5 separate regions of the Homo sapiens genome follow, and regions 1, 2, 3 and 5 are each linked to region 4. The links come from fine-mapping of genetic effects on gene expression. A gene starts in region 4. Each other region holds a variant in brackets. All regions are shown on one strand. Distances are from middle to middle.

The links. PIP is the estimated chance that this variant, and not a neighbour inherited with it, causes the effect.
Region 1: its variant is fine-mapped to the expression of TTC9 in neural progenitor cells (Aygun 2021, PIP 0.91).
Region 2: its variant is fine-mapped to the expression of TTC9 in lung (TOPMed, PIP 0.98).
Region 3: its variant is fine-mapped to the expression of TTC9 in pancreas (GTEx, PIP above 0.99).
Region 5: its variant is fine-mapped to the expression of TTC9 in monocytes (TOPMed, PIP above 0.99). The same link has a PIP of 0.9 or more in aorta and whole blood.

The regions. Positions count from the first base shown.
Region 1 is chr14:70,206,383-70,212,598 of GRCh38, reverse strand. LOC107984686 (a long non-coding RNA gene) reads left to right here. Exons shown (of 3, transcript XR_001750796.1): 2 at 1-41; 3 at 4,359-4,383. It also overlaps the pseudogene LOC646548. Among named protein-coding and RNA genes, the nearest start is that of SLC8A3, 21 kb to the right of the region's middle. The variant T/C (reference allele first, on the strand shown) is at 3,259.
Region 2 is chr14:70,667,814-70,674,029 of GRCh38, reverse strand. It overlaps TTC9 (tetratricopeptide repeat domain 9), which reads right to left. Exons shown (of 3, transcript NM_015351.2): 3 at 1-2,954. The coding sequence ends at 2,875. Among named protein-coding and RNA genes, the nearest start is that of LINC01269, 28 kb to the left of the region's middle. The variant A/G (reference allele first, on the strand shown) is at 3,801.
Region 3 is chr14:70,660,180-70,666,395 of GRCh38, reverse strand. The region is part of intron 1 of TTC9 (tetratricopeptide repeat domain 9); the gene reads right to left. Among named protein-coding and RNA genes, the nearest start is that of TTC9, 21 kb to the right of the region's middle. RefSeq lists enhancers at 1-13, 511-670. The variant G/A (reference allele first, on the strand shown) is at 2,440.
Region 4 is chr14:70,639,035-70,645,250 of GRCh38, reverse strand. TTC9 (tetratricopeptide repeat domain 9) reads right to left here and starts at 3,335. Exons shown (of 3, transcript NM_015351.2): 1 at 2,716-3,335. The coding sequence starts at 3,121. It overlaps TTC9-DT (TTC9 divergent transcript), which reads left to right and starts at 3,953. Exons shown (of 3, transcript NR_110071.1): 1 at 3,953-4,243. RefSeq lists silencers at 2,781-2,850, 2,871-3,060, 3,281-3,430 and enhancers at 3,901-4,160, 4,261-4,440.
Region 5 is chr14:70,695,540-70,701,755 of GRCh38, reverse strand. LINC01269 (long intergenic non-protein coding RNA 1269) reads right to left here and starts at 3,058. Exons shown (of 4, transcript NR_125769.1): 1 at 2,900-3,058; 2 at 1,556-1,761. RefSeq lists enhancers at 2,341-2,840, 2,841-3,342, 2,749-3,948. The variant A/G (reference allele first, on the strand shown) is at 3,229.

The DNA.
Region 1 (6,216 bases), 430 kb after region 4:
CTGGCCCCAAAATCTGCACATGGTTCATTCCTTCATTTCATGTAAGTGATGGCTCAAATGTTACCTCCTTATAGAGACCTTCTGCCTTAGTCACTTTGGGCTGCTATAACAAAACTACCATAGGCTGGGTGGCTTAACAACAGATACTTCTTCCTCACAATTCTGAAGGTTGGGAAGTCTAAGATCAAGGTGCTGGCCTATTCAGGTTCTGGTGAGGGCCGTCTTCCTGGTTTTCTGTGGAATGCCTTCTTGCTGTATCCTCAAATGGGGAGAAGAGAGAGAAATTGCTCAGCCTCTTCATCCCCTTACAAGGGCACTAATGCCATCATGGAGGCTCTGCCTGCATGTTTTCCTTTAAACCTCATCACCCCCTAAAGGCCATACCTCCAAATACCATCACATTGCAGATTAAGGCTTCAACATATGAATTTGGGGGCCACATAGTACATAGTAGCTTCCCTAAAATTCAATCTAAATTGCCACCAAAACATATCCCACCGCAGTCACTCTCTAATACCCAGCTTGAGTTTTCTTCATATCACTGATTTTTATCTGAAGTTTTATAAAAATATACCCTACTTTACTTGTTTATTATCCCTCTCCTCCATTATACTAGAAGCATGATGCAGTGGGAATTTTCTCTTATTTACTTATGTATCTGGGCAACTAGAACACTGCCATATACAGACATACTTTGTTTTATCACACTTCATTTTATCACGTTTTGTAGGTTTATGTTTTTTACAAATTAAAGCTTTCTGGCAACCATGCATTAAGCAAGTCTATTGGCATCATTTTTTTTTTGACACAGGGTCTCACTCGGTCACCCAGTTCTGGAGCACAGTGACACTATCATAGCTCACTGCAGCCTCAACCTCCTGGGCTTAAGTGATCCTCCCACCTCAGCCTCCTGAGCAGCTGAGACTACAGTTGTGCACCACCACACCTGGCTAACTTTTTTATTTTTATTTTTTGTAGAGACAAGTTCTCACTGTGTTGCCTAAGCTAGTCTCAAGCTCCAGGGCTCAAGCAATCCTCCTGCCTCAGCCTCCCAAAATGCTGGGATTATAGGCATGAGCCACTGTGCATGGCCGTTGCATCATTTTTTCAGCAGCCTGTGCTCATGTTTGTGTCTTTGTGTCACATTTTGGTAATGCTTGCAATATTCCAAACTTTTTCATTATTATTTTATCTGTTATAGTGATTTGTGATCAGTGATCTTTGATGTTACTATTGTAATTATTTTGGGGTGCCACAAATTGCATATATGTAAGATGGCAAACCCAATTGATAAATTTTTGTATGTGTTCTGACTGCTCCACTGAGCAGCCATTTTCCCATCTCTGTCCCTCTCTTTGGGCATCCCTATTTCCTGACACACAACAATATTGAAATTAGGCCATATAGTAACTCTACAATGGCCTAAGTGTTCAAGTGAAATGATGAGCTGCACATCTCTCACTTTAAGTTAAAAGCTAGAAATGATTAAGCCAAGTGAGGAAGGCATGTTAAAACCTGAGATTCTAGGCCTCTTGTTTCAAAGAGTTAGCAAGTTGCAAATGCAAAGGAAAAGTTCTTAAAGGAAATTAAAATTGCTACTCCAGTGAACACAATAAAACATCATTATGGCTGATATGGAAAGGTTTTAGTGGTCCAGATAGAAGATCAAACCAACCACAAAATTTATTTAAGCCAAAGCCTGTTACAGAGCAAAGCCCTAATTCTCTTTAATTCTGGGAAGCCTGAGAGAGATGAGGGAGCTGCAGAGAAAAGTTGAAAGCTAACAGAGGTTGGTTCATGAGGCTTAAGGGAAGAAACCATCTTCCTAACAAAATGTATAAGGTGAAGCAGCAAGTGCTGATGGAGAAGCTGCAGCAAGTTACCCAGAAGATCTAGCTAAAATTATTGATGAAGGTAGCTACACTAAACAACAGATTTTCAATGTAGATGAAATAGCCTTACCACCTAGGACTTTCACAGCTAGAGAGGAGAAGTCAATGCCTGGCTTCAAAGCTTCAAAAGATAGGCTGACTGTCTTGTTAGGGGCTAATGCAGCTGGTGACTTAAGTTGAAGCCAATGCTCATTTACCATTCAAAAAATCTTAGTGCCCTTAAGAATCATGCTAAATCTGCTCTGCCAGTGAAAGCCTGGATGACAGCACATCTGTTTATATTGTAGTTTACTGAAGTTTTTTTTTTTTTTAGATGGAGTTTCGCTCTTGTTGCCCAGGCTGGAGTGCAGTAGTATGATCTGGGCTCACCGCAGCTCCACCTTCCTGGGTTCAAGCGATTCTCCTGCCTCAGCCTCCGGAGTATCTGGGATTACAGGCTTGTGCCATCATGCCTGGCTAATTTTGTATTTTTAGTACAGACGGGGTTTCTCCATGTTGATCATGCTGGTCTTGAACTCCCAACCTCAGGTGATCTGCCTGCCTCGGCATCCCAAAGTGCTGGGATTACAGGTGTGAGCCACCACACCTGGCCAGTTTACTGAAGATTTTAAGCCCACTATTGAGACCTACTGCTCAGGAAAAAAGATTTCTTTCAAAATATTACTACTCATTGACAATGCACCTTATCATCCAAGAGCTCCGATGGAGATGTACAGGGAGATTAATGCTGTTTTCATGCTTGTGAGTGCAACTTCCATTTTCGGCCCATAAATCAAGGAGTAATTTCAAATTTCAAGTTTTATTCTTTGAGAAATAAATTTCATAAAGCTATAGTTGCCACAGATAGTGATTCCTCTGACAGATCTGGGCAACATCAGTTGAAAGCCTTCTGGAAAGGATTCACCATTCTAGATGCCATTAAGAACATTCATGATTTATGGGAAGAGGTCAAAATATCAATATTAACAGGAGTTTGGAAGAAGTTGAGTCTAACCCTCATGGATGATTTTGAGGAGTTCAAGACTTCAGTGGAGAAAGTAACTGCACATATGGTGGAAATAGCAAGAGAACTAGAATTCGAAATGAAGCCTGAAGATGTGACTGAATTGTTGTAACCTCATGATCAAACTTGAATGGATGAGAAGTTGCTTTTTATGGAGGAGCAAAGAAAGTGGTTCTTGAGATGGAATCAACTCCTGGTATAGATGCTATCAACACTGTTGAGATGACAACAAAGGATTTAGAATAGTACATTAACTTAGTTGGTAAAGCAGTGACACAGTTTGAGAGGATTGAATTCAATTTTGAAAAAAGTTTTCCTGTCATTAAAATATCTCACTTTCTCTCTTCTCTAGGTATATACATA[T/C]ACACACACACACACACACACACACACACACACACACATGTCCAAACCTCATGCATATATATACATATATATGTATACACACATATATATAATATATCCACATATATTATATATAATACACATATATAATATATACATATATAATACATATAATATAAATTCAATACATTTTTGTTTTGCAAAGCAAATGCTATCAAACAGCATTGTATACTACAGAGAAATCTTTCATGAGGCGAGTCAATTGATGTGGCAAACTTTATTGTTGTCTTATTTTCTGAAATTGCCTCTACTACCCCAGCCTTCAGCAGCCACCCCTGTGATCAGTCAGCAGCCATAAACATTGAGTCAAGACCCTCCACCAGTGAAAAAGATTACAACTTGCTGAAGGCTCAGGTGATTGTTAACATTTTTTAGCAATGAAGTATTTTTAATTAAGATATGTACTTTTAAAAAGACATAATGGTATTTTGCACTTAATAGACTACAGTACAGTGCACACATACCTTTTACATGCACTGGGAAACAAAAAAAATTTGTGCAACTCTCTTTGTTCTGATCATTGTTGTGATCTTGAATTAAACCTGTAATGTCTCTGAGGTTGCCTGCATAATTGGCTTTCAAAAAGAAAATTCTGTAATCAATGAATGAATGAATAAATCATCCCCCACCCCACCTCACTTATGAAGGGGATTTTGTAGCAGCTTTACCACCTCTCTAAGTCTGGTGTTGGAGATGCACTTACCTTTCATCTCCCTCTCTCATCACCATGATGTGTCATCACTACTGAACAACATATCCCTGTCCTTAACCTCACTTTCTTTTGTTTTTGTCTAGTTCATTTCTTTCATCTTCTCCTCTGGGGAATCCCTCTAGAGCCCCAGCCTTTTTCTGAGTGTTTCCTTTGTGTTCTTTTTCATGACACAAACATATTCTTTCTGATCTGGACCTAGCCTCTGAACCTCAGAGACCATTACTAGTGTCCAAGGGCAGTGATGGGAGAAGACCTCAATGGCATCCTTGCAGCTGCAGAAACTTCTGTGGAGTTTTATGCATCCCAGGCACTTAACATGGCACTATGACAATATTTTATTCTCTTGCAGTTCTGCATTGAAACCTCTTACCAATGGGAATGCTTTTTTTTTTTTTTTTTTTTGAGCAAATAAAGACTACCAAAGACTGCAAGACTCCTCTGCAGAAAGGAGTGTACAATGGAAGAAACAATCCTGAGCTGGAAGTCAGAGCCAGGGGTTCTGATCCCAACACTCCACTAACCATGTACTCTTAAGTAAATTGCTTAATAGTTTATGAGCCTTTGTTTCCTTATCTGTCAAATGAAAGAATGTCTACCTTTGAGGATTATTATTAGTTTCTAAGGAGATGATATCTATGAACATAATTTAAAATTGTAAAATGCTACGTAAATGTCAAATAATTGTTATATATTTTCTAAGTCAAATCATACAAGATCAGGAAGCAGTTTACCTCCATTTTAGACCAATGGAGAGATTTGTCATTCTATTCTTGGTGATTACGTTTCCTATTTATCCAGGTTTCTGTCTCAGTTTGGCTATCCTACCCTCTCCCCACCCTCTCAGTGCACCATGACCATGAGGACATTCAAAGGGATGGAAGATCTTTGCTCATCTTCTGTGGAAGAGAGCATTTCTCTTGAAGAGGAGCCCTGAATTTTATGCCTTTGAAGCCCCTCTTCCTGCTGTGTTCTTCTAACCCAAGTGTGCCTCCCTAAATGAAATGTCTATGGGATACTTCAGAAAGGTAGAAAGGGCTGCCCCTGTAGCCTGTTTTTGCCAACAGTGGATAGACAATGATTGTCATGGAATAAGAAGAATGCCCTGCTTGCAGTGTTACAGCATCCTCTTTGCCTTCTTTCCCTAGATTCTGACATACGTATTCTTTTCTAGTCATAGGTTAAACTTGACATTTAGTGACCTTCTTAAAAACATATAGGCATCCTCATCTAACATCCAGCAACACATCCTTTTACTTTTTATATAATTATGACACATGTTTAGAAAGATTTTGTTGGAAGACTGTGAGCCACTCCAGAGAAATTATTTCCATGGTAGAACAGATAGGCCTTGTTTACTGATTGGATAAAGGATGAGGGAGAAGGAGGAGTCCGGCATGACATCCAGGTGTCTGGCTTGAGGAACTAGAAAGATGGCAGCACTGACTTGGGAAATATGAGAGGAAACATGTTTGGAGGGCATGGAGCACTGATGAACCTGGGGAGCTGGCATGATATTTGAAGGAGAAATCTCAGAGGCAGCTGGAGATATGCATGGGAAGCTCAGGAGGGAAGGCTGACTGGAGACACAGATTTGAGACCTTTCAGCATCTAGGTGGTTTTTGAGCCACGGGAACAGGCCAGAACACCCAGGGAGTGTGTAAAGTGAGGAGAAAAGAAGGCCAAGGGCAGAACTCTAGAGAAAATAGGTATAAAGGCCGGGTGCGGCAGCTCACGCCTGTAATCCCAGCACTTTGGGAGGCCGAGACGGGCAGATCACGAGGTCAGGAGATCGAGACCATCCTGGCTAACACAGTGAAACCCTGTCTCTACTAAAAATACAAAAAATTAGCCAGGTGTGGTGGCGGGTGCCTGTAGTCCCAGCTACTCGGGAGGCTGAGGCAAGAGAATGGCGTGAACCCGGGAGGCAGAGCTTACAGTGAGCCAAGATCACGCCACTGCACTCCAGCCTGGGCAACAGAGCGAGACTACGTCTCAAAAAAAAAAAAAAAGAAAAAAAAAGAAAAAAAAGAAAATAGCTATAAAAAATATAGACCGAAAGAGGGGAGCCCACAAAGATGTCTAAAAGAGTTGGATAGAGAAGAAAAGTAGAGCTAAGAGCATGGGTTATTGAAGGCAAAGAGAGAGTCCTTTCCGTGAATAACGTCATGACCAAGTCAGATGAGGAATAAAAAGTAGCTATAACCATG
Region 2 (6,216 bases), 29 kb before region 4:
CCCTATCACCCCAAACATCAACCAATACCCCAGGTAGCTTTTTCTCTTTGGGATTATTTAACTTCAGGTCACAGTGAATGGAGTTCCAGTAAGCCTGTATATCTAAGTCACCAAACAAGCAGATGACCTGGACGCTTGTTCTATGAGGTTCTGAGAGGCTGTCTTCATTTCGTTCTGGTTTTTGATCTTTCTACATGGGATGGCTACAATCATATCCTGGATTGTCCAGCCCTGCCCCAGCACACTCATGTAAACAAGACCTCTCTCCTGTCTCTGCATAGGGAATAATTACTCGGAGTCCTTCCTGACGCACAAAGACCAAGGGAAGACCCTGGCAGTTTGAACTCATTCTCCAGGTGACCTCTACCCTTCTCTTCATCCTTCAGATCCTAACAAACCATCTGCCAAATCACAAACGTTCTAAGTTGGAGGCTTGGGAATGGGGGTGGGGGTGGGGGTCGGGGCGTTTGAACACATTCCCGTGTGGGGCCATAGGGTAGTTTTGGGTTAGGGTCATGTAAAGCCAGCTAGGAGGAAGAGGAAAGACAGCATAATATAGTAGGGATTGGGGAGAATGTGGCAGCTGAAATAGCTTCTTCCTTTTCCTCTTCTCCAGAGAGTGAGCTCTAGGTGAGTAATGGCAGGCCCCTCAATATTTCTAGCACCTTCCTGTAGCCCCCGTTGAAAGCCTTTGGGGAACTATGTGAATATAACTTACGCTGCTCTCTTCTGGGCCCCTCGGCTGTGATTGGATCCTGCCGTGGTGGGGCATCTGCTTACATAATTAACCCATATTTAACTTTGTGTTTCCTTTCGGTCTTAATTGTGACCCTTTCCCAATGCTGGGGATGGGTGATGAATGCTAGGTGAGTTGTTGAGATACATGCTGGCTCCATCAGTAAGTAGAATGAGCAATACACAGACATAACTATTGGACCTCAGCTGCCTTTTTCTGACCTGTCACTGCTCTGACTACTAGGGATTCTGGCCTCTGGTCTTTTGGGGCCCTTGAGTAAATACATAAGGAGGCCATGTACTATCACTGACATCATGAACACTTTTCAGGTTAATACATATTGTCCTGTTCTCAAATGGTTATAATTGCCCAATATTATACTTACAGAGAGGCAACTAAGTATAGCATAGATACTAGCCAGAGCTCTGGAGTCAGGCAGGCCTGGTTCAAATCCTAGCTATGCCACTAAAGGCCATGCAACCTTGGGATAATTAATTTTTCTGGTTTTCAATATTCTTACCCATCAAATGGGAACAGTATCCCAGAGTAACTGCATGAAAGAAATGAGATTATACATGTAAAGATCTGAAGATAATGCATTTAATAAATCCTAACTATTCACATTATTGCATCTGTATATATTTTAATTTTGTACAACATTGTCTTTTTCACTAGTCACACGAAAAATACATGAAAGTGCTCTGATAATTTTAAAGCATCATATAAATTAACGGTGTCATTGGTAATAATCTCATATGCATTTCTTAACCCTTCCATTTCCTTGAAGACTGAGACGACATCCCATGTCCCACAGCATATTGCACAATGATGGGCAAACAATATGCCCTCAGTAAGTGTTTCTTGTTTGACTGAAGCAACATGGCATAGCATAACGAGCACAGACATCAGGAGACTAGGCTGGGATGAAATTAGTTTAAGGCAGGAGAGCCAGTCTGCAGTCATAATTTATTCATTCAACAAGCATTTGTTGAACACATTCTATGTGCTAGATGTTGAGTTCAGATAATTTCATCAAAAGAAGATTGTACAAGTTCTGACAAAGCCAAGCCCCTGGGCAGTCTCCACAATCCCAGCCCACTCTTAAAAGCACAAAGGCTGTAGCCACCATTGTCTGCCACTGGACAAACGGCCAATTGCTTTGGGGAAAGCCCCATCCTGCCTGGCTGTAAGTAGCTCTGATTGAGGGTTGGAGGAAGGAGTAAAAGTGAGGGAGTGGGCTGCTTCCAACAGAACTGACAGGAACTACTACCTGTTAATTTGTTTTTATTTACACTGAATCAGTCCACAGTTCAATCCCCTAGCCTATACGATGCTCTTTCCCCTGGCCATCATCTTTCCCTCCCTGTCACCTACACAGTCAACCTGTCCCAAACCTTGGCCCACTTCATCCTGCCCTTCTGCGGTCACAGCTGCCTGCTGGGTGGGAGTCCGGGGGAATGGTATGTGTGGTCACCAGAGGGCACTGAGTGGGCTTCAGTGGCATGTGAATCCTGGCAGAGTCTCGGATCCCCGATGGGGAGAGGAGAAAGCACAAGCCAAGACAACGAGTGGGGGAAGGAGGCAGGGGCTAAGTGACGGGTGGGGGGTGGGGGTGGGAACTCCAGTGTACACATTGACAGTCTCTATGTTGGCTTCACCAGCGCTTCTCTGTTTGTCTCGTCCCTGGATTTCTAACAGTTGCCTCGAGATGCTCTGGTTCTGGTCTGTCAGGAAAGTGTGGAAGGATCCAGCCCATGGGCTGTGTGCCTGCTGCCTGTGGGATGGTACACTTGCCAGGCTCCGCCTCTGTCAGAAGCACTGGCCAAAGTCAAAGCCACAACAGCATCCCAGCCCATGAGACTCCTCTCCAGCTGTCCCAGCAGAAGTCAGGCCCCTCTCAGTCGCTGACCTGCTAGAGGAGAGGATGTCTCCATTGTCTGGGCGACCTACCAGATTCCAAATTTGCATCTCTCCTTTTCGTACTGGGAGGAGACAAAGAGCTGGGGTGCAACAGGAGGAAAAATGAGGAGCCAGAAGAAGTGGGGAGAAAGGGACAGAATCCAGGACGGGGCTCTCTGCCAGGGGATGCCTGGAAGTCCCCGGTCAGGCGTGGGCGCAGCTCTGGAGCTGCTTCCTGGTTACATGGCTTCTTTTTCTCTCTGGGAGCATCGGCTGAGTTTCATCTCCGTCAGCTGGATATACCGAATCACGTTGGTGTCTGTGAGGAGAGAAATAAACCTTAGGGAACACCAGGTGAGGGCAACTATCACATTTACAAGGAATTAGCAAAGGCTGTGTCTGCAGACATCCAACAGGCCAGGCTCACTCAACCAAGGTCCCTTCTGCCTATCCATGGTGGCTGAGAGGGCAACTAGATGTCGACCCTCTCCTTCACTGTCTCCCCTTAGCAAATGTGGACAGGTTGGCATGACCCAGGGGATGTGAGAGAGAATGGGTGGGAGAGGAGAGAGAATTTCTCTCCCTCTTTCTATGCAGCAGCGTATCCCAGTGGTTTCCCAGCCGGCGCAGTTAGTTTAGTGAGACCCCAGTTGGAGTTTAACATCAGGCAAGTTGCCAACTTCTCTGAGCCTCCTGTACCATCTGCAAGAAACAACCTCTATTTTTTTTTGTTTGTTTGTTTTTTGAGATGGAGCCTTGTCCTGTTCGCCCAGGCTGGAGTGTAGTGGTGCAATCTTGGTTTGCTGCAAACTCCACCTCTCAAGTTCAAGCAATTCTCCTGCCTCAGTAGCTGGGATTACAGACACATCCCACTGCGCCCAGCTAATTCTTGTATTTTTAGTAGAGACGGGGTTTCATCATATTGGCCAGGCTCGTTTCAAACTCCTGACTTTAGGTGATCTGCCCACCTTGGCCTCCCAAAGTGCTGGGATCAGAGGCGTGAGTGAGCCACCGCGCCCAGCCAACAAGCTCCATTTTTGAATGCCAACCTTGTGCCAGGTTTCTAACCTTCATGATCTCATTTAATCCTCAATACAATCCCGCAAGGTATGTATCCTTCTCCTCACTGTGACAAAATGGAATAGGGACCTAGCGAGATTGAGTC[A/G]GATGCCAAGGAGACACATAGTAAATGGTGTGTCTGGCTGCAAAGCCTGTCTCTCCTGAGGACTGTAATACCTGCCTCATGAAATTGCTCTGAAGCCCAAAATAGGTAAGTCTAAAAGTGCTTAAAACAATGATCAACAAATATTAGTCTAATGTAATTTTTTTAAGCTTGAAGAGTTTAAAATGACTTTGCTTTATTGTCTTATTTTTGTCGTTATAAGCAGGGTCAGATGACCACCTCACCAAAACTGGGGCATTTCTTCCCAGTTCCTGTTATTAGTGAGGATGGCATGGCAGGGAACAACTGCTAAGTTCCACACACACCATAACATAAGAGTGACAGGGCTGCCTGGAATAGTTACTTCTGGAAGTAGAAATGAATACTATATCATGCTAAAAAATGCCAGGCGTATCCTCCAGAACCGTGCTGGCAGATAGCAGTGCTCCAGAAAATTCTATTGAATGAGTCCAATGGTTAGTCTTCAAGCTGCTTACAGTTGGTGGAACACGATTTATGTACGGAAAATAAATCAACAACAAGGTGTTCTTTAAAAAGATAAAAAAAGTATACATTTGGACATTTGTGACTTGATTCTAAAGTTTTTTAAAGACTTTTGAAAGGAAGATTGAGTTTAAAAAAAAAAAAAAAAGGCTGGGTGTGGTGGCTCATGCCTGTAATCCCAGCACTTTAGGAGGCCGAGGCAGAAGGATTGCTTGAGCCCAGGAGTTCAAGACCAGCCCTGGCAACATAGCAAGACTTCATCTATACAAAAAATAAAAAACATTAGCCAGGCATGGTAGTGCATGCCTGTAGTCCAAGCTACTGGGGACGCTGAGGTGGGAGGATCATTTGAGCCCAAGAGGCGGAAGTCGTAGTGAGCTGAGATCACACCACTGCACTCCAGCCTGGGCGACAGAGCGAGACTCTGTCTGAAAAAAGAAAAATTATTAACCATATAAACAACAAAAATAGCAACATCAAGTCAAAGTTGTTTAAATGTTACTTCCTCAGAGAGGCTCTTTCTGATCACTTGGTCTAAAATAGCTCCCCCCTCTTTACTCTTTTTTATTTTTTTTGAGACAGTCTCGCTCTGTCACCCAGGCTGGAGTGCAGTGGCGCAATCTTGGCTCACTGCAACCTCCGCCTCCTGGGTTCAAGTGATTCTTCTGCCTCAGCCTCCTGAGTAGCTGGGACTACAAGTGCGTGCCACCATGCCCAGATAATTTTTTGTATTTTTAGTAGAGACGGGGTTTCACCATGTTAGCCAGGATGGTCTTGATCTCTTGACCTCCTGATCCACCCACCTCGGCCTCCCAAAGTGCTGGGATTACAGGCATGAGCCACCGCGCCCAGCCTTACTCCTTTTTTTTTTTTTTTTTTAGACAAGGTCTTGTTCTGTCGCTCAGGCTGGAGTGCAGTGGTGCCATCTTGGCTCACTGTAGCCTCCGCCTTCCAGGTTCAGGTGATCCTTCTGCCTCAGCCTCCCAAGTAGTTGGGATTACAGGTGTCCACCACCACACCCAGCTAATTTTTGTATTTTTAGTAGAGATGGGGTTTCACCATGTTGCTCAGACTGGTCTTGAACTTCTGAGCTCAAGCGATCCACCTGCCTTGGGTTCCCAAAGTGCTGGAATTACAGGCATGAGCCACCACGCCCAGCGCCCCCATTTACTCTTGATCTCTTTATTCTGCTTTATTTTCTTCACAGCGTTTATTACTACTAAGTATTTCATTTGTTTACTATTTGTTTGCTTGTTTACTGGTTGACTTCTAGCCATCCCTTGGTAGAGAGCCCCTCCCTGGGTTCTGTCCCCTCTCCACACTTTTTTTTCCCACTTACAATAGACAGTGAGCCATTATAATATAAGCTCTTTGAAGGCAACAACTTTCTTTTGTTCACTACTATATACCTAGCAATATTGTACCCCCTCAATAAATATCTGTGGAATGAATGAATGAATGACTGGTGGATATGATCTAAGTGAATGCTATAGATAACACATGTCCTAAGGAATAGCATCTGACTGGAGAAGTCAGAGCATGCTTCCTGAAAGGTGCTGGGCTTAGCATCAAATTTGCCTGTTTGTATTCTGTGTCATCAACCAGATGTGAGCGCCTCATGGGTAGCGGCAGTGTCTTTTCATTGATTCCCTTGGTGCTTAGCACAAATCTTGGCACATAGTATGAATTCAATATATATATATTTGTTGAATAAGTGAAGAGAGCTGGATTCTGAGTTGAAAAAGATGAGGAATTCTATACTCTATTTGAAGAGAAGAGGGGCCTGTGCTCCCTGGAACTCAAACCCTAGGCAAATGCATGGGCTGTGTGCTCCTCTTAGGTCTTATCATATATATCTGATCCCTAATTTTGCCATCTCTGTCCCTGCCTGGCCCTCCTAGCCAAGAAAACTGCT
Region 3 (6,216 bases), 21 kb before region 4:
CAGCTCATACAAGCCACATGTCTGGACATGAGAGACCTAGGTGTCCCAGGCAAGAGGAAGCTATGGCAGGCAGGTCTCATGGTGGAGAGCTTCCCCATCCCACAAACAGCCATCTTTGAGTAAACCATGTCCCTTTGAGCTTTCCCTTACCAGCCCTGAGCCACAGGGAGCCACAGGGCTGGGACTAGAGTGATGACACGCCTGGAGGATGACTAAATGGCCTTGAAGAATGATTGAAATTTCGTGCCCTAGGCACCTCCCTCTAATCCCAACCCTGCTGAGCCACCTCGCCTCCATTTAACCACTCAAATATCTAGTAGGCATTGACCAACGGCAAAGTATGTTGCATACTTCGGAGGGAGTACAAAAAAAGAGACAGGAAAAAGGCACCTGTCTGCTTCTTCAAAGCAAATAAAAACAGAGACTTAGGAGGCAAAACTGGTGCTTCTGTTCACAACCCGGCTGGGTGGCTGGGGGAGAATGCTGATGCTCTGTTCCTTCTTTGTGCCCAGACTTTTCCACACTGACAGAAGACACCTCAGGATAGAGACAAGTCACTGATTTCAATCTTCAGGGGTCTAACGTCAGTCATTCTGACCCCTTAAATAACTTCCCAGGTATCAGAATTGCTGAGATTTTTTAAGAGACCAGATTTTTTTTGAGCATTTAGGACCAAAAAACTCCATTCTTTCACAGAATGAGGAGAAATACACAGACTGTCAAGATGAAGGTATGAGAACCAGGAAGTGAAAGAGAATCAGCCCAGATCTAGAAACTGACCTGTCAGGTTTCACTGGCTGCAGGGCAGAAAGCCAAGTCAACAGAAGCAACAGGCTGCTAACCCCCGAGGGCAGCTCTTGTTCACCCAGGACTACAATCTTCTGGTGCACCAGGGGGTCCTTCTGATAAGCTGATGCTACAAGCCCCCCTCCCCTCTCCTCCCTCTCTCTCCATGGTGGGATCTTAGGCCCTTCTGTCCCCTTCCTCACCTGCATGTTGTCGGAGCCTGTGCTGGTGCTTATACAGCTGTACAGAGAGAGAGAGGGGTTTCTGTAAAAAGGTTCCTGGATGTGAACCTCACTGACTGCTACCTGTGTGTGACTTGGCTCCAGCACCTGCTCCCAGAGCTAAAAGCTGTCCTGTCCACAGCTTCCACGCTCCCTGCCTGAAGTCCTCTCTGACCGGGCCTAGCAGCCCTCTTCCCGTCCAGCCCTCCCTCTTTGAACAGACACTTCTGTTTGCTGACCCTGGCAGTCTAGGAAAAGGACCATTTAACAAATAAAAATAAAAATAAAATAAAATAACAGTTTTTGAATGCATAAAATGGTGGTGACAGGGGCAGGGGAAGCAAAGAGGCCTGGAAATGGGGAAGCCTCCCCCTTCCCACAAAGGGTTAAAGGAACCACAGCAATCAATTTCTGGCACTTATTTGGTAAAAATATTTCTAGTTCCCCTGCAGATCCGGTGGGAACTGGCATACCTGGCTGTGGACCAGGGTTCAGACTTTGGGGGAGGCAAGGGAGGCAGGGCTAGGCTGGTTATAGGGTGTGGAGCCTCAGCTGACACCACAGACAGGGCCCAGAAAGATGGAGAAATAGCTGGGCCAAGAGGTAGAATCTGGATAAGAAGTTGGGGTGCTAGGCCAGGACTCTTTTTTTTTTTTTTTTTAAATGGAGTCACGCTCTATTGCCTAGGCTGGAGTGCAGTGGTGCGATCTCGGCTCACTGCAACCTCTGCCTCCTGGGTTCAAGCAATTCTCCCGTCTCAGCCTCCCAAGTAGCTGGGACTACTACAGATGCCCGCCACCATGCCTAGCTAATTTTTGTAGTTTTAATAGAGACGGGGTTTCACCATATTGGTCAGGCTGGTCTCGAACTCCTGACCTCTGGTGATCTGCCTGCCTCAGCCTCCCAAAGTGCTGGGATTACAGGAGTGAGCCACTACACCCGGCCCAGGCCAGGACTCTTAAGGGAATCCAGGGGTGGAGGGGGTGACAGCCAGGCTGGAGGCTGGCCTCAGCGCTACCTGCAGGTGATTTTTAGGCACCTCTCTGCTTTGGGTGGGTGGCTACTGGTACATCTAGTAAGCCCATGGGATAGGTAAGATGGGATGACAGCAGGCACGTGTGAGGGCTGAGGAAGTTAAGACGACGTGGACTGGCTGCCTCCTGATTGCTCCTTCCCCATCCCTGTAGCCATTAGCCAGGACCTGGGGTTGCAGTGGACCTCAGGATAAGTGGCATCGCCCCACAGTGTGTCCTCCTCATGGTTATTAATCCCTTCTCTGGTGTCAGAGGTGCTAAATACTTCACATACACTATGTCTTTTAATCCTCACATCAACTCCATGAAACAGGTTCTATTTTTATCCTTCTTTTATAGATGATGAAACTGAGTTCCAGAGAAATGAAGTAACTTGCTGAAGGTCACCCAGCTGGAAG[G/A]GGGTAGAATTAGGATATCAGCCCACTTCTGTCAGGCTTCCAAGACTGTGCACTTGACCTCTGGGGTGTCTGTGGGGATGCATTTGAAGCCATCGGAAACCCACACAGCCCCTGGGGAGAAAGAGAGGTCATCTGTGGAAACTCCCTTCTGCTGTGTTCCAAAGCTAACAAGCAAAAATTGATGCCTAACTGCTGGGCACTGGGCGGGGCAGTGGGATCAGCTGATGAGCTGACACCCGCCCCCCCACCCACCTGGGGCTAACAGATGGGCAGGGAGGGCAGAGGTCATGTTATCTCAAATATTCACATGTGGGCTAACTGCTATGAAGGACAAAGGTAGAGAAGGAGCATACCCAGGCAGGAGGGGCCTTACCTTGATCTAAAGTATAATGGGAGGCCTTCTTGGAAGAAGTAGCATTATAGCTGGGATCTAAAGATTGGGTATTTCTCAGCCTCAGCACTATTGACATTTTGGACTAGATGATTTTTTGTTACATGAGGATGTCTTGAGCCTTGCAGGATGCTTAGCAGCTCCCCTAGCCTCTTCTCACTACATGCCACTTGTGACAACCAAAAAATGTCTCTGGAAATGGCCAAGTATTCCCTGGGTGGTGGGGTGGTGGTAAAATCACCCATGTTTGGGAATCACTGATCTGGGTGAAACTGTGACTTTTCAAGGCAGAGCCAAGAAAGAGAGGGAGCGAGAGGGGAATGGCCTATTTCAGAAAGTTTGGGAAGCCATGCATGCCAGGTTGGAGCAGAGAACCAGAGGGAAGGGTAAAAAAGGTGAAGCTGGAAAAGAAAGAAACCATGACACAGAGACCCTTCTGGTCCACGTAGAAGATCTGGGACTTCATTGTGAGGCAAGAGTGGATTTGGATGATGAAGTGATGGTGACTCAGGTGACCAGAGTGGAGGCGGATAAGCAGGAAAAACAGATCAATGTAAGTGGCATCCAGGAGGCAGAGGTGACCAGCAGCAGGGAATTTCTGCAATATTTTCTCTCTGCTGTCCACATTTGCAAGGTAGAGCCGTTCATCTGGGAGATCTTTATTGTCATTTTGGATTTCCTGATTGTCGAGAAGTGTTTCTCCATGTTGTGGTGACCTGGTCTCTGTTTGAATTAAGGATTATCATGTCACAGTCTCTATACTCTGCCATTTGGCATGCATCGGTATTTTAAAGAGCACTGAACTAGGAATCATAAGAGCTGGATTCTAGTCCCATCTTTGCCACTAGCCAACATTATGAAAATTACTTTCCCTTTCTGGGCATCTGCAAAATGAGAGATCTAAATTTCACTAAATGATCTCTACCGTCCTTTCAGATCTAACAGCCTCTAAATACAAATGTTTGCCACTTAATAGAAGGACAAAATTGTTTCACTGGCTCCTCTTCAAAAGGATTTCCTTTCTCCCTATTAATCAAGGTCAGGTATCTTTTGTTGGGGAGGACAATCAGACTGGTAAAGCAGTGATCAAGAGGGCTTCTGTAAGACAACAATTAGATTCCTGCTGTGTGGATTTTTTTTTTTTTTTTTTTTGGCATAGAGATTGGATTATGTTCTGATGTGGGTCTTCCCAAGTCATGGCACTGGGGTGAGACCTTCCCTGAAGGGAGTAAACATCTCCACCATTAGTCATCATGAGCAGAGGAGGCTGTTGAGTTGGAAAGGTAGGTTTTGGACTGACTGGCAAGGGAGCCTGGCCTGGACTCTGTGGATATACTTGGATTCAAAGATGTAGTCACTTGGCAGCAGAAGAGGTACAGGGTGGAAGATGCATGGCAAAGGGCCTGAGCTCTCAGACAACCATATCTAGAGGCTCCATTGAAAGAAATATTATTAACTTTCTGGCCTTTGGGTCTTCTGAAAAGGCTGAATAAATGCAGTGGCCTGGAATCAGCCAAATTGTGGAGAATGAAGACAAGCCTCTATCAAGGCGTGGGAAGAAGTGCTAGAGGAGAAACAGCCTTCCTTGAGCCAAACAGGGTGATAGCAGAGGTGGCCAGTGAACTTACAAGAGAAAGGCAAATCTGGGGGACAAGAATTGAAGCTGCAAATCTCCAACCACCCCTCCCAAGTACAGATTCCTCCACTGCCAGCCTTAGGCGGTTAGGGTGTGATCTTACGAAAAGAATTGGCAGGCCTTCTGAGGCCCACAGAGGGGTCGTGTTTAGCAAATAGAGAATCAGCTACTCAAAGAGCCCCCGCGACACTCATGCACACAGACGGAAAATCCTAAGTGTGATGTTCCCCCCAGCAACCACGCTGAGACCTCAGGCTAAAGCATGTTGAGTTCTCCTCACTCTGGCACCTGTTTTGTTTTTGTGTTTCCTGGTGCATGCAGGGCAAAACGCCACCCACTGGCATGAGATAAAGGGAAACCAGATGAAAGGAAGAACAAGTTCATGCAATCACTGGTTTTCTTCTTATAGCTAACTCACTATAGTTTGCTTTTACCTGCTGAACAGAAGGGAAACATGGGCTAAATGGAAGGAAGACCAGACCCATCTGGGGCCAGCAGCGAGAAGGAAGAACCTACTCTACAAGGCTGCCTCACTGTTTGGGGTTGCACCGTATCCATTTGTACAGGATACGTTACAGTCCTCACCCTCAGTACCTAAGAATGTCACTTTATTTGGAGACAGGGTCTTTGCAGAGATGATCAAGTTAAAATGAAATAGTTAGAATGGGCCCTAATCCAATTTGACTAGTGTCCTTATAAAAAGGAGAAATTTGGACACAGAGACAGATACAGAGTGGAAAGATGATGCAATAAGATCTAGGAAGACGGCTATCTACAAAGCCAGTGAGTGCCTGGGGCTACCAGAAGTTAGGAGAGAGGCTTGGAACAGATTCTTCCTCACAGCCCTCAGAGGGAACCAACCCTGCCGACACCTTGATGTTTCACTTCTAGCCTCTAGAATGACAAGACAATGAATTTCTGTTATTTTAAGTCACCCAGTGTGTGATATTACAGCAGCCTTAGGAAACTAATATACCTTGCTAGTCACTGCTTTGTGAGATGGGCCCAGGAAATGGCCATTGGGTTCCTAGGGGAAAATTTTCCCAAAAGTTTGCCAAATTATTTGATTTGCTTTCAAATTTATTTCAAGAAGCAATGACATAGTAGTAAAGTGGAAGAAGTTTGGGATCTGGACAGAGCTGATATTAAGAATATTGAATGACTGGTATAGATCATAACCAAACCAAATAGGCAAACAGTATTGTACCAGCTCTGGGTGCCCTGGCTGAAGACTAATGCTGGGTCTAGAGATGCAGTCTTGAGCTGGAATCTGAGCTCTGCCACTCACTAGCACAGGCCCGAGGGCGAGTTATATGATCACCCTGGGTCTTATTCTTCCCATGTTAAATAGGAACTTTGGGGGAACGCTTATGATGATGAAATGAGATAATTAATGCACATTACATGCTTCTCACAGTGCTGGGACAAAAATGGATTCTCATAAATACTAGTTCTTTAGAAAGTCACTTATCAAATATGGTTTGCCCAGCAATGTGTACATGAATTGGAGAAAATTTCCATCTTGAGTCCTATATACAATATGTGGTACATAAACAAAGCTACAGCGTAATTTAAAGTAGATTTTCTATCTAAAGTAGATTTTCACCCACTACCCACAAGGGCAGACAGGTATCAGATGGCCAAGTCCTAGAGCTGGAAATCTGCACATGTGTGCAAATAATTGTTCTCTGTTACGCTGTCAACTTGTGACATTTGGATACTTCTCTTGTTAGTGATTTGAAATATTCCC
Region 4 (6,216 bases):
GACAAGAAAGGATACTTTCCTATTAGCTGGGACTTCTGAAATAGTCATCACTGATTTTATACATAGCCCTGAAGGAAACAAACATAAGGCTTCCACTTCTCCCCAGAGTGACTTTTTTATTTTTTATTTTTTATTTTTTGAGACAGAGTCTCGTTCTGTCGCCCAGGCTGGAGTACAGTGGCACGATCTCGGCTCACTGCAAGCTCCGCCTCCCGGGTTTATGCCATTCTCCTGCCTCAGCCTCCCCAGTAACTGGGACTACAGGTGCCCGCCACCACACCCGGCTAATTTTTTGTATTTTTAGTAGAGACGGGGTTTCACCGTGTTAGCCAGGATGGTCTCGATCTCCTGACCTCGTGATCCGCCCGCCTCGGCCTCCCAAAGTGCTGGGATTACAGAAGTGAGCCACCGCACCCAGCCCCAGAGTGACTTTTAAGTTGAACCATCCTCCTAGCTGAATTTTGGCTTTGACAAAATTGCTTTGCTTATAATCACTCTTTTCGTTCTTTTGTGAGACTTGACATTTGGAAATAGCCCGTTAGAGCCTTGAATCAAAGTATTCTATTTCTTTCTCCTGGTTACCAGGCCTGAGATCTCCCAAAGGAATTTCCAAAGTGCAAGGCTTTGGAGCCCACCTGAAATTGGGCTCAAGTGAGACAGAGGCCCAGAGGATGCTGACTTTGTGCATCAAAGTATGATGACAAGAACATTGCCTTTGGAGAAGAATGGCTCCGGAGCCTTGAGCTTTTTCTCTGCAAAACTGATGATCATATTTCTTTTACATAGATTATAAAGATTTAAAGAGACAATGTATGGAGGATGCCTAACAGCACACACAATTAATTATTAATATAAGTGGTGAGCACTGGAGAAGGCAGCAGAGGGGGAATATCTGCTATTGCTACTTTCCATTCTCTCACCGTTGAAGTTTTCCAGTGTGTGAGGTGAGGATGGGAGTGGTGGAGCTATCCAGATTTCAGTCCCGCCCTGACTGGGCTGGCCTGACCAAGGACACATCTTTGATTTCACCATGGAAAAGTAACCACGTCTGGGGTGGAGGGCAGGCAGTGCTAGCCACTGGTTGGCAGCCCTAGAATGTCCATGGATAATACTGACTAAATATAAGATTCCATTACCACTCCAAAGTCACCGCATTAGCAATCCACAGTGCCTCGTCCTCCACCCATGGCTGCTCTGCCCTTTAACTATTCATGGGGCAGCAGACAGTATGCCAAAGACTTACAGGAACTAAAGGACTCAAGCTGTATCTTATAATGGATTGAAAGAGTCCATTTTTGCTGTACTACAATTTTATCTGCTACTATTACTGCTAGTATTGCTATTAGCACCACCACTCCTCCAACTGCTGCTACTACTACTCTATTAATCCTTTAAGTCTGTAAAGTACTTTACAATTTACAAAGTGCCTCCGTAGCCTGGGTTTTACCCGATCAAAGATGAGACTGGGCATGGCATTCTGGGAAGACAGAGGTAGGCTGGTACTAGAAACCTCAGAGGGAACAGAGAGATCTGCATTTAAGAACCGAGCAGAATTGCCAGTATTTATTTTTACTCCCCCACCACTGCCTCGGCTTCAGACACATTCACCATTCCCTGCCACACCCAGTCACTCTTCCACCCCTACCCTGCTCTAACTGTCCATAGACAGTTTAGGCAACCTCACATGTCAGGAACTAGGAGGAACTGCCCTTTGTTTGGTCGGAGAAGGTTGACCATGCCAGAATCTCACCAAATGGGGCAAGAGAAGAGGAGAGAATGCTTTTTAAGTTGCCTTTGCCAACCTCTCCCACCTTCTCCCAGGAAGGCCCTAGCAAGAGCCAGACTCTTCTTTTTTTAAGAGACTTTAAATATTCCTGCGCCTAAATTAAACAATTTTTAAATCCCTGATTTTGGCTCTTATCCCCAAAGGGAATGTTGGAATGTACACCTTCTTTGCCCAAGAGTAGGGCCCCCTTTTCCTTCACCCCTAGCAGCCAGCTGGCGTGAGGACTGATGCTACACATAGTGAGAAACGGGCAGGGAGGAGAGGGAGAATGCAGCATAGTTCAAGCCCAACCATGAACCAAGCTTCTTTTGAGATAGAGATCTTCACCTGGCAACCGGGAGCCCCAGCAGAGCTCAGAGAGAAGAAAGTGGCATTCTGGAATCCATTTTGCTCAAGATGCTGAAGGCATGGTGTCAAACTCCCCTTTGCTACTGGGGCCAAAAAACTTGGGGAAGATCTTACCTACAGGGATGCGGTTAGTTGGGGAAAAGGCGAGGACCAATCCTGGTGCTCATGCTACCTAAGGAGAGCAGACAGGTGCGTGGCCTCCCTTGGGACCCACCCGCAGGAAAAAGCTGGGCTAGCGGTGGCTGCGGGGGCCCACCCCGGGCGCTGCTTCCGCATTTTGGACCCAGGTCCACTGGTGAGCAGTAGCAGCAGCAGCCATAGCCAGGCCAGCTGGGTCCCCTTCCAGTCATTTCTAGGTGAGATTTACGATGTATGCTAGCGAAGGGACAAGAGATGATTATGGCCTTTGAAAGGCATAATCCTGAAAGTCACACTTTTTCCAAAGCGCCTCCCTCCCGGGTTCTCCCCAGAGCAACACAGTCACAGCAGGAGAATCTGCACCGCGGGAGCGCCGCAGTGGTCCGCGGAGGGACCGGGCCGAAGAACGGGGACCGCGGCGCGGGGGGCGCGGCGCGGCTCACCTGCCAGGCTGTTGTAACAGTCGATCTCGATGGCTTCCACCGTCTTGCTCTGCTCCTCCGAGAGGCGGCCGGGCTTCAGGGCCCCAGCCGGGGAGGCCGGGCGCGAGTCCCGCTCCCGTTCCCCGGGGGGCGGCAGCAGCCCCTTCAGCTCCAGCAACGCCCGGTGGTATTTGCCTATGGCTTCACGGAATTTCTTGTCCTTGTAGCACTGCGCCCCTTGGCTTTTGAACTCGTGCGCTCGTCGGATGAGCTCGGCCGGCTCGGCCGCCGCCCCGACCTGGCCCCTCGCTGGGGCTCCTCCGCCGCCGCCCGGGACGCACAGCGGCGGCGGTGGCCGCTGCCCCTCTCCGGCCGCGGGCGGGCTCGGGTTCCCCTTGGCCCCGGCCGCCGAGCCCTTTCTCTCCATTCGGCCGCCGCCCCGGCGCCTGGTGCGCGCCGCGATCTGCCCGCCGCCGCCGCCGCCGCCGCGCCTTCCCGGGTTTAAAAGCCGCGGGCGCCGGCCCCGCGCCTCGCAGGCTTCGTGGCGGCCGTGACACCCCGCGGCGGTCTGGCGCCCCGCACTCCCATTCTCCCCGCTGCTGCCAGAGGCTGCTCCAGCCGCCGCCGCCGCCGCCTCGGACGCCGGCCCCTCCCCCGCCTCCCGGCTCCGCGCCGCCCGCTCCCGCCCTCCTCCCTCCGCAACCTGCGGGTGGCGGGGGCCGGTGCTCGCGGGCCCGGGACTAGCGCTGCGGGGGGACCGTGGCCCCGAGTGGGGTGGCGGGGATGGTCGCTGACCCGGAAGAAGCTTGGCTTGCCCGAAGGAGGGGAGGATTAATGACAAAGACGGCCCCGCTCTTTCCCATTCAATCCCGCTCTGCGAGGCGCGCCTAGTCTGAAAGGAGGTGGGGGGAGGGGGGTAGGTGTAGGGGAAGGGGAGTGTGTGTGTGTGCGTGTGTGTGTGTGTGTGTGCGTGCGTGTAGGGATGGGGGGCGGCGGCGACGAAATGCGTGCAGAAATAGATTTCTTAACTACAAGAAAAGGTGCGGCAGGGAACAAGGGGCGCAGGCGCAAGCCGTAGCTGCTAGTTCTTTGCAGTAAGGTGTTAGTATTTTTTAAGGGGGCAGGGCCTCCTTTTTGTGGATCCAGGTTGTCGCTGAGGTGTGTCTCGGTGTGTGTGGTCGCCGGGGCGTCCAGAACGCGACGGGCGGTACAGCGTGTGGGGCGCCGTATTCTGGGAGCCTGTGTATGCGTGTGCTGTGTGCGCGCAGCTGTGCAGGATGAATCACAGACATCAGAGATGGAGAACACCTGTTACTGTGGGTCATCGGCTTGGCGTGCGTCCGGTCTAGTTTCCATTTACAGGACAGTTCTGTGCCCTTCCTCAGGAGGTCCCATTCCTTCCTTCTTTTGGTCGGTTCTGAGTGTCAGCTGTCTACTGGGGATCTGCTAAGGCTAAGAGGCAAAGATAGGCAAGTCACTCCCCTGACCTCAAGAAACTCCCAGTCTACAGGCGAAGATACACCACCCACCGGTAGAGTCGCTGGACCAGGTACAGATGGTGCCTGTCATTGGGGAGGAACGAAAAGTGCTGTGCAGCCCTGAGGGGGGGAGGGAGAGGTAGCTTTTTGAGTAGTGGTAGATCAGGAGGCTTTATGGAGGAAATAGCATTTGAGGACCTTGAAGGCTGGGTAGGATTTGGCATGAAGAAGTAGAAGGAAGTGGCATAGCCGGAGTGAGGAAATCCAGCGGAAGTCCTGATGTTTGAAATCTCAGGTGTGTTTAGGGCATAGTGGTTTGATTTTATAGCCTAATGAGAAGTAGTGGGAAATGACGGGGTTGGATTATGGGGGCTTTTGGATGAAGAGTTTGGATTTGATTTTGGAGTCAATGGAGAAGCCTGACATATTTTTTAGTGCCCTCCCTTCCTTAATGTTAAGAAAAAGAAAGATTCTAGAGCACCGGTTGTCAGAGTGCTGGCCCCAGACCTGCAGTGTCAGCATCACCTGGGAAACAGTTAGAAATGCAAATCCTAGGATCCTACTCCAGACTTAAGAAATCAGAAACTCTGAGGGTGGGTCTCAGTTAACCAGTATATTGGTTCAGATATGCTGCTTTAAAACCTTCCTACTCAAAATGTAGACCTTGGGCCAATATCATCAGCATCACAGGAGAACCTATCAGAAATGCAGAATCTGAAAATCCCACACCTACTAACCCAGAAGCTGCATTTTAACGAGCATACTGGGTGATTTGTTTACCTATTAAAGTGTGAGAAACACTGCTGTAGAGACTTTGGAAAATACAGTAAAGTATAAAGAACCCCCCAGTCTACACCCAGTTGTATTCTTTGTTAATATTTTGATGTAATTCCTACCAGTTGTTTCCTAGGCATCTATATTTGTAAAAAGTGCTCTTTTAGCCAACATAAGTGGTATGGAACAATATACACAATTCATTTACTGTTTGTTGTTGTTGTTGTTGTTTTCTTTTCTTTTTTATTTTTGAGTCAGGGTCTTTCTCTGTCACCCAGGCTGCAGTGCAGTGGCATGATAATTGCTCACTGCAGCCTCAAACTCCTGGGCTCAAGGGATCCTCTCACCTCTTACTTTAGCCTCCTGAGAAGTTGCAACTATAGGTGCACACCACTACCCCTGGTTAATTATTTTTTTTGTAGAGACAGGGTCTTGCAATGTTCCCCAGGCTTGCTTCCTGTGCTTTTTACTTTACATTATATGTAATTAAATATTCTTTTAAAGCCTAATTTTTAATATTCTGTACAATATTCCATTGTAAGTGGCCGGGTGCAGTGGCTCACGCCTGTAATCTCAGCACTTTGGGAGGCGGAGGTGGGTGGATTACCTGAGACTAGAAGTTCAAGACCAGCCTGGCTAACATGGTGAAACCCCATCTGTACTAAAAATACAAAAACCAGCTGGGCATGGTGGTGGCTGCCTGTAATCCCAGCTACTTGGGAGGCTGAGCAGGAGAAACGCTTGAACCCGGGAGGCAGAGGTTGCAGTGAGCCAAGAGCGTGCCATTGCACTCTAGCATGGGCCGCAGCGGGAGACTCTATCTCAAAAAAAAAAAAAAAAAAAAAAATTCCACTGTAAGTGTACCATAGTGTACTTAAGCATTCTTCTATAGTCAGAAAGATTTTGCTATTATAAATAACACTGAGATAAAAATAATAGATATCACTTACATATAGTATTTACATTGTGCCAGGCATTGGGTTAAGCACTTAACATATAATAATCCACTGAATCTTCATAATAACTTAGTGAAATCAGTGCTATTGTTATCCTCATTTTAGACACCAAGTCACAGAGACTTGCCTGAGATTACACTGCTAATGAGTAGTGGAGCTGGGACTTAAACCCAAGAAATTTGGCTCCAGAATCTATGCTCTTAACTATCTTTATACTTAAATTTTTTTCCTAATTTATTTTTTCTTACAAAACATTATTTCAAGTTTTAATAAAGTCTAGAAACACATTGTCAACTTGCTTCTCAGAAAGATTG
Region 5 (6,216 bases), 57 kb before region 4:
CTCCTCCTCTTCCTCCTCCTTCCTCTTTCTTCTCACCCCCCTCCTCTTCCTCCTTTCCCCTCTTCCTCTTGTTCCTCCTTCTCCTCCTCATCCCCTCCTCCTCCACTTCTTCCTCCTTTTCCCCCCATCCCTCCCTCTTCCCCCTCTTTTCCCTACAGCTCCCTGCCCCATTGGCATCTGCTTCTATCTTCCTTCTCGCTAACCCCTTTGTCTAATGGGCATGCTCTGTTTTCCGCTGACCCCTAGTTCTAGGCCATGGGTCCCAACCCCAGCAAATGCATGGAAAAATCTTGGTTTCCTCAGCTTTGTTCACTGTGACAAGAAAGAGTGAGCTCCCACAGTGACAGCAACAGACTCTGACACATCTTTTCAATCTTACTTCTCTTTCCATTTCCTTTAAAACTTTTGGCCTTAAAAACTTTGACCAGTGTGTAGGATTGTTATAGAGACAGACAAGTGGTCCAGGAAAGAAACTCAGGGAATTTCCGACATGAGGGAAGAGGAAGGAAATCCTTTGTCTCACATTTGTTGTTTCCTTTGGAGTGTTTTCCAAAGGACACTGGCCTGTTGACAAGGCATCCCAAGGGCTTTGGGGCTGGCCCTTCCTTTTCCTTGTCCCTGGTCTATGTCTGTCCTTGTAGCCTGGTGCCTGCTTCAGGGCTGGGAGCTGGGGTTGCCAGATGTGCTCTGAACCCTGCTGGCAGAAGCACTTGTGTTTGGCCTCTGTCTCTGCTTCCCTGCCCTTCTCTTCCCCAGGTCCTCGGTAGCCCTGTTGAAAGGCCAGTGGCTTCTCATGCTTTCAGAAAAATTTAGACAATAAAGAGGCTGCAATGATGAGCTGATTGCTTTCAGGCTGACAGCTAAAGTCTGTGTCGGCACTGAGTCAACCATCAAGAGGGAAGGTGAGCACCTTCCAGCTAATGCTGGGTTCCCAGCTCCTCCCATTGGCTTGTGAGACGTGCTATGTCCATTTTGTCTCTTCTCTCCCTTCAGCCTGTGTGCATTCCTCTCCTCTGGGCCCACTGCTCACCTGCTCTCATTCTGTTCTTTAGTATTCTGTTCTCTCTCTCATCCCACACTATCTTCAAAGAGAGCCAGGCCTTGGAGAACGGAGGGAAGTCCAAGTTCCCCTTTGGCTTCTGACTCCCAGTGTCCCCTTTCTGTGCCCTTTGCTCACCCTCTTTCCAGGATCTGCCTCCTCCATGCTTCTCCACCCATAGCATCACTGCCTATTCCTAGGAAGGATTTGGATACCAGTCATGTGTATCTTCAGCAGCCTCATGGCATGATGTTTTGGAACACACATGCACTTGGGAACTTAGTAGCTTGGGTTGAAATCTGGGCCCTGTTCCTTACATGCAACTTTGAATATGTTAACAAAAGTCTCCATGGGCAAGTTTCCTCAATCTGTAAATTGGGGCTAACAGTATATATCATGTGATTGTGAGGATTAAATGAGTAATGTATGTAAATACTTTGGACAGTGCCTGGCACTTGAGGAGTTTTATAAAAATTAGGTATTACTACCATATGAATACAAATGAATGTGCTGTACCTCAATAAGGAGATCGGTGAGTAGGAGAGGCCCCCTTCCGTGCCATGGCAAGCTCAATCAAGGGCCACCATGGGGTGACCAGGCTGTGGGAATGGCCAGATCCATGCGTGCTGCCATCAGCATGGCCAGGTGAACGTTGGTGATGACCAGAAAAGGCTGAGCCAAATGCTCAAATCAGCACAGTGGGCTTGAGACTTTGGGAGCCACTGTGGAGAAGAAGAGCACAGTTGAGATAGGGAATGGAAGGTAGGTTCTGCACAGGCAGGCGTGATGTCATTCCTCCTGTCACTGGGCTGCAGGGTGAGCATCAAGCCAGCCATGCAGGAGAACAGAAAGTGCACCCTGCTGTAGAGGGGTGTGGGGGTGTGTGCATGGCCAAATAGAAGACGTGTTGCTTCCCTAGGAACCTGCTAGCGGACTGGTAGGAGGGACCGCAGTGTGTGAAGCACTGATTGCCAATAAAAACCATTTCGTTGTCACCTCCCTCCATATCCTGTGCCCTTGTTCTGGTCCTCAATGCAATTCATAGGCTTTTCTTTCCCCTCCCAGGAAAGGTCCCTGGGCAAAGCCTGTGACCACAGCCACACCTGTAGGTGTGTGAATTACCGTCTTCTATGTGTCTTCTTTGCTTTCTCTAAAAGGGAGGGATGGAAAGCTTTTCTTTTTAATTTTTATTTTTTTGACAGGGACTCACTCTGTCTCCTAGACTGGAGTGCAGTGGTGTCATCATAGCTCACTGCAGTCTCTGCCTCCTGGCTCAAACGATCCTCACACCTCAGCCTCCTAAGTAGTTGGCACTGATAGGTACATGACTGCCATGCCCAGCTTTTTTTTTTTTTTTGTAGAGATGAGGTTTCTCCATGTTGCCCAGGCTAGTTCTGACTTTTATGAAAGACACAGTATCATTACCCAGCAGGATGACAGATGTTAGAGATCCAGGACCTCCTCCTGGTGCTCCCTGGCTCAGTGGTGGGGCTATCTTCCCAAGGGAGAAGTGGCAGATGGCACACAGGGTTCCCCCGCTCAAGGCTTTTGGGGCACCGTTCATCCTGGGGCATCACTCACATCTGCAGTCCCAGGAGTTGCACAGGGTGCAGATTTGCCCGGGGACCCCAGCCTCAATTGGGCTCAAAGGGACTCTGCCTCAGGATCCCTTCCTCCCTGTTCTTGGCTGTCTTTTGTGAAGAGCTGTGGGTGGGGGAAGGTGACCGTGGGGACTGAGAGCAATCAAATTGAAATGCAGGGCTAAGAGAAGCCATTGCTTTGGGCAGAAAGAGAAAATTCATGGCAGAGGGAAGAGCAGGTCCCAAGCTTCCCCACCACCCCCCATGTCCCCGCTCTCACCTCAAGCTTCAGAGGGCAGGATCCTGCCTTGGAGATGATGTACCAACACAGCTACCTCCCCACCAGTTCATTAGGAAGACAAATGCCTGAGCCAAATTCCTTAGGATTTGCCAAGAACCAATTCCTTAGGATTCTTTTTCTGGCAACTTCCATAGCATTGCCAAGCTAATGGAGGGATCCCAGGGATATATCTGATGCCTGGAGCAACAGGAAATGCGGGAGCCCACAAGACGATCAGTCAGGTGTGTGCACCTAGCACAGTGGCAATGCCCAGTGTCCTGATACAGACCTTTGTAGTTCCCTTGGGCTCAGGAGGAACCATAATGCCA[A/G]ATGACACAGTCACATGGAAGGGCAGGGCTGCAGCCACAGTGACTCAGCAGGAAAAGAGTTAGTTCCCCAGAAGGATCTAGCTTGAGGAATATCTGAGGCCAGAGTGTAGCGGTTGGTCTGTTTGCTTTTACATTCTGCAACCCATTTATTGATAAAACTGTTGTGTTTTTCAATGTTAAGTAAAATGCTATGCAAAAGTATCCTCAAGCCAAGTCCCCTAGCTCCAGGGGTGATTATCAAAATAATGCCAGAAATTAATGTTTTTATGCAAGGATGTCGAGGAGGTCCTGGAGTCCAGGGGAAGGGGCCTTGGGTGGTTCAGGGTAGTGCCATTTACCAGCCTGGAGGAAAAGCAGTTTAATATTTTCAACAACCTATATTGATACACATGTGTTGGCTGAATGTCAGCCCTGCCTAGCCCTCACCTCAAACTGACCCTCACCTCAAACTGAAGCTTTATTGCATAAGCATTGTGGTACTTACTCTTGCCTGAATATTGAAGAAACCCCATTCCTCATCTCCAAATCCCTCATATGGCTGTTTCTCCAATGTGAGTTTCAGAAGACTCTGAAGTGTGAGAAATCTCTCTGCTTTGACCAGTCTTTTGGGCAAGGCCTCATGTGTCAATAAGGGTGTGTCTCCTTCCTTTCCAGCTCAGTCCCAACTATTTTCTTTCATATAACACGTACTGTCCAGTGGAACTTCTTGCTCTTTCTTTTCACACACACCCTAAGCATTCATGTCTGTAAGCCTTTGCTCCTGCAGTTTCCTCTACCCGGGTGCCTTTTTCTCTTCTCTCCTTGTGTCCAACTCATGGTCATCCTTTAAGGCCTTTGCAAATGCCACCTTTTCCAGGAAAGTCTCCAACTATTCCTCTCTTCATAAATGATCTCTCTCTGTCCTGTGACATCTTAAAACAATTTTTTAAAACTTCAGTATGGCACTTTAGAATTTTGTCATCATCATTACTGACATCATCAACATCATCATTATTTGGCTGGATTCATTGAGAATCTACTATGCGCCATGAAAATATTCTGTGCTCTACAGTCTCATTTGCTTTTCTGTCTTGTAAAAATAATTATGTATGTATGTATGCATGTTTTCTTCCTTTCTAGCATACAGTAATAAAGCAAATGGAATTTGGAATCAGATTTGGGTTTGGACCCGAGTTCCATTATTTGGTTGTAGGACTTTAGGCAAATTACTCAGGCTTCCTAAACTTCAGCTTTCTTGTTGGTAAAACACTGATAATAACACTTACCTCATAAAGGGTAATTGTATTACATCAAATAATAATAATAATTGCCAGCATTTGTTCAGTGCATATTATATGCTGGGCAGTGCTCCAAGTACCAATTCTGTATTATTTAATAATTTAAATCCTCACAGTAACCCTATGAAATAACTAATAGTACCCTTACTGTACGGAGGGAGAATCTAAGGCAAAGAAGCCAGTCAGTGGAAAGCTAGAATAAGAATTTTGACTTTAGAATCCTCACTTTTTTTTTTTTTTTTAACTGAGTCTCACTCTATTGCCCAGGCTGGAGTGCAGTGGCACTACCTCAGCTCACTGCAACCTCTGCCTCCCAGGTTCAAGCAATTCTCCTGCCTCAGCCTCCCGAGTAGCTGGGACTACAGGCACCCGCCACCATGCCTGGCTAATTTTTGTAGAGATGGGGTTTCACCATTTGGCCAGGCTGGTCTCAAACTCCTGACCTCAAGTGATCTGCCCACCTCGGCTTCCCAAAGTGCTGGAATTAGAGGCGTGAGCCACCACGCCTGGCCAGAATCCTCCCTTTTAATCATTACCAACAAATGCCTCTGTAGGGTGGATGATACCTGGCCTGGGCTGGATATTGTCTGGACGGTACGTAGCCCAGTATCTGGCAAGTATTTCAAAATTGGCAGCTGTAATTCTTATTCCCATTCTTACTGCTCAGGGCTGGGGTCTATCCTGTGCATCTCTGTTTCTCCACAGCACCTCATAACACTAAGAGCTTGCATTTGTTTAGCATTTTCCATGTGCCAGGGACTGTGCTAAGCCTCTAGCCCTAGCAAATGAATAAATGAGTGATTGAATAAATGAATGAATGAAAAGATTAGACAAAAGCTCTTGAACAGTGGGCAAAGACTATCTGAAAAGAGGATTCATCCCTTCCAGTTTACTTGCCAGGCAAAAAGATGAAGGGATGGAGGAGAGGCCTCCCAGGGACCTGAATAACTCCCAGTATTCATCAGTATTTTCATTAACGACTTGAAAGATGGAGTGCAGAGTATGCTAATCAAATTGGTGAAGCCTGCGAGGCAGAATAGAAGCTGAGCACTTATGAGGGAAGCTGGAGCTTGCAGACAGTACTTGACAAATTGGAGAAATAAACAGAGTTAATAAACAGAGCTTCAGGAGCTGCAGACTTCAAGTGGCTCCAAGGGATCAGCTGTCACTAATGGATTTGCCCAGAGAGATCTTTGACCCTCTTTTCCTTGGTCTTTGCCTGGCTTGACTGCATCTTTGGAGCAAGCCTGCCTGAGGGGTACACAGTTTCCTTGATGAGGGGACTTATTTGGGCCTGGAAGCCTGATGGGCAAAGTCCCCACTTCAAAAGCTAAGCTGTCCCCACACTTCTTCCTGGCCTGTGACTTGCTCACCTAACCCATCTGCCTGGCTGTGTCTCCATGGAGAGAAGGGGCTGGCTCCACCTGCTCCCCAAAAGAATCAAGACTCAGTAAAACCATAAACTGACCCCACATTGCCTGATCCCTACCCACCAAAATGGTGCTGCCCTTCTCTACTTCCTATACATTCCTGTCGTCAACTTCTTTTCCCATTTGAGGCTGCCCTGGAGGTGATTCTGACCTTGGCTTTTCTTGGGAAAATGTACTGGCGTGAAAGGAGGGGAAATGAGACAGTGCGATCTGCTGGGGAAGCTCCACCTCTGCCCTGCCAACCTCTAGGAAGAAGACAAAGTCTGAGTGGTTTGGCAGTT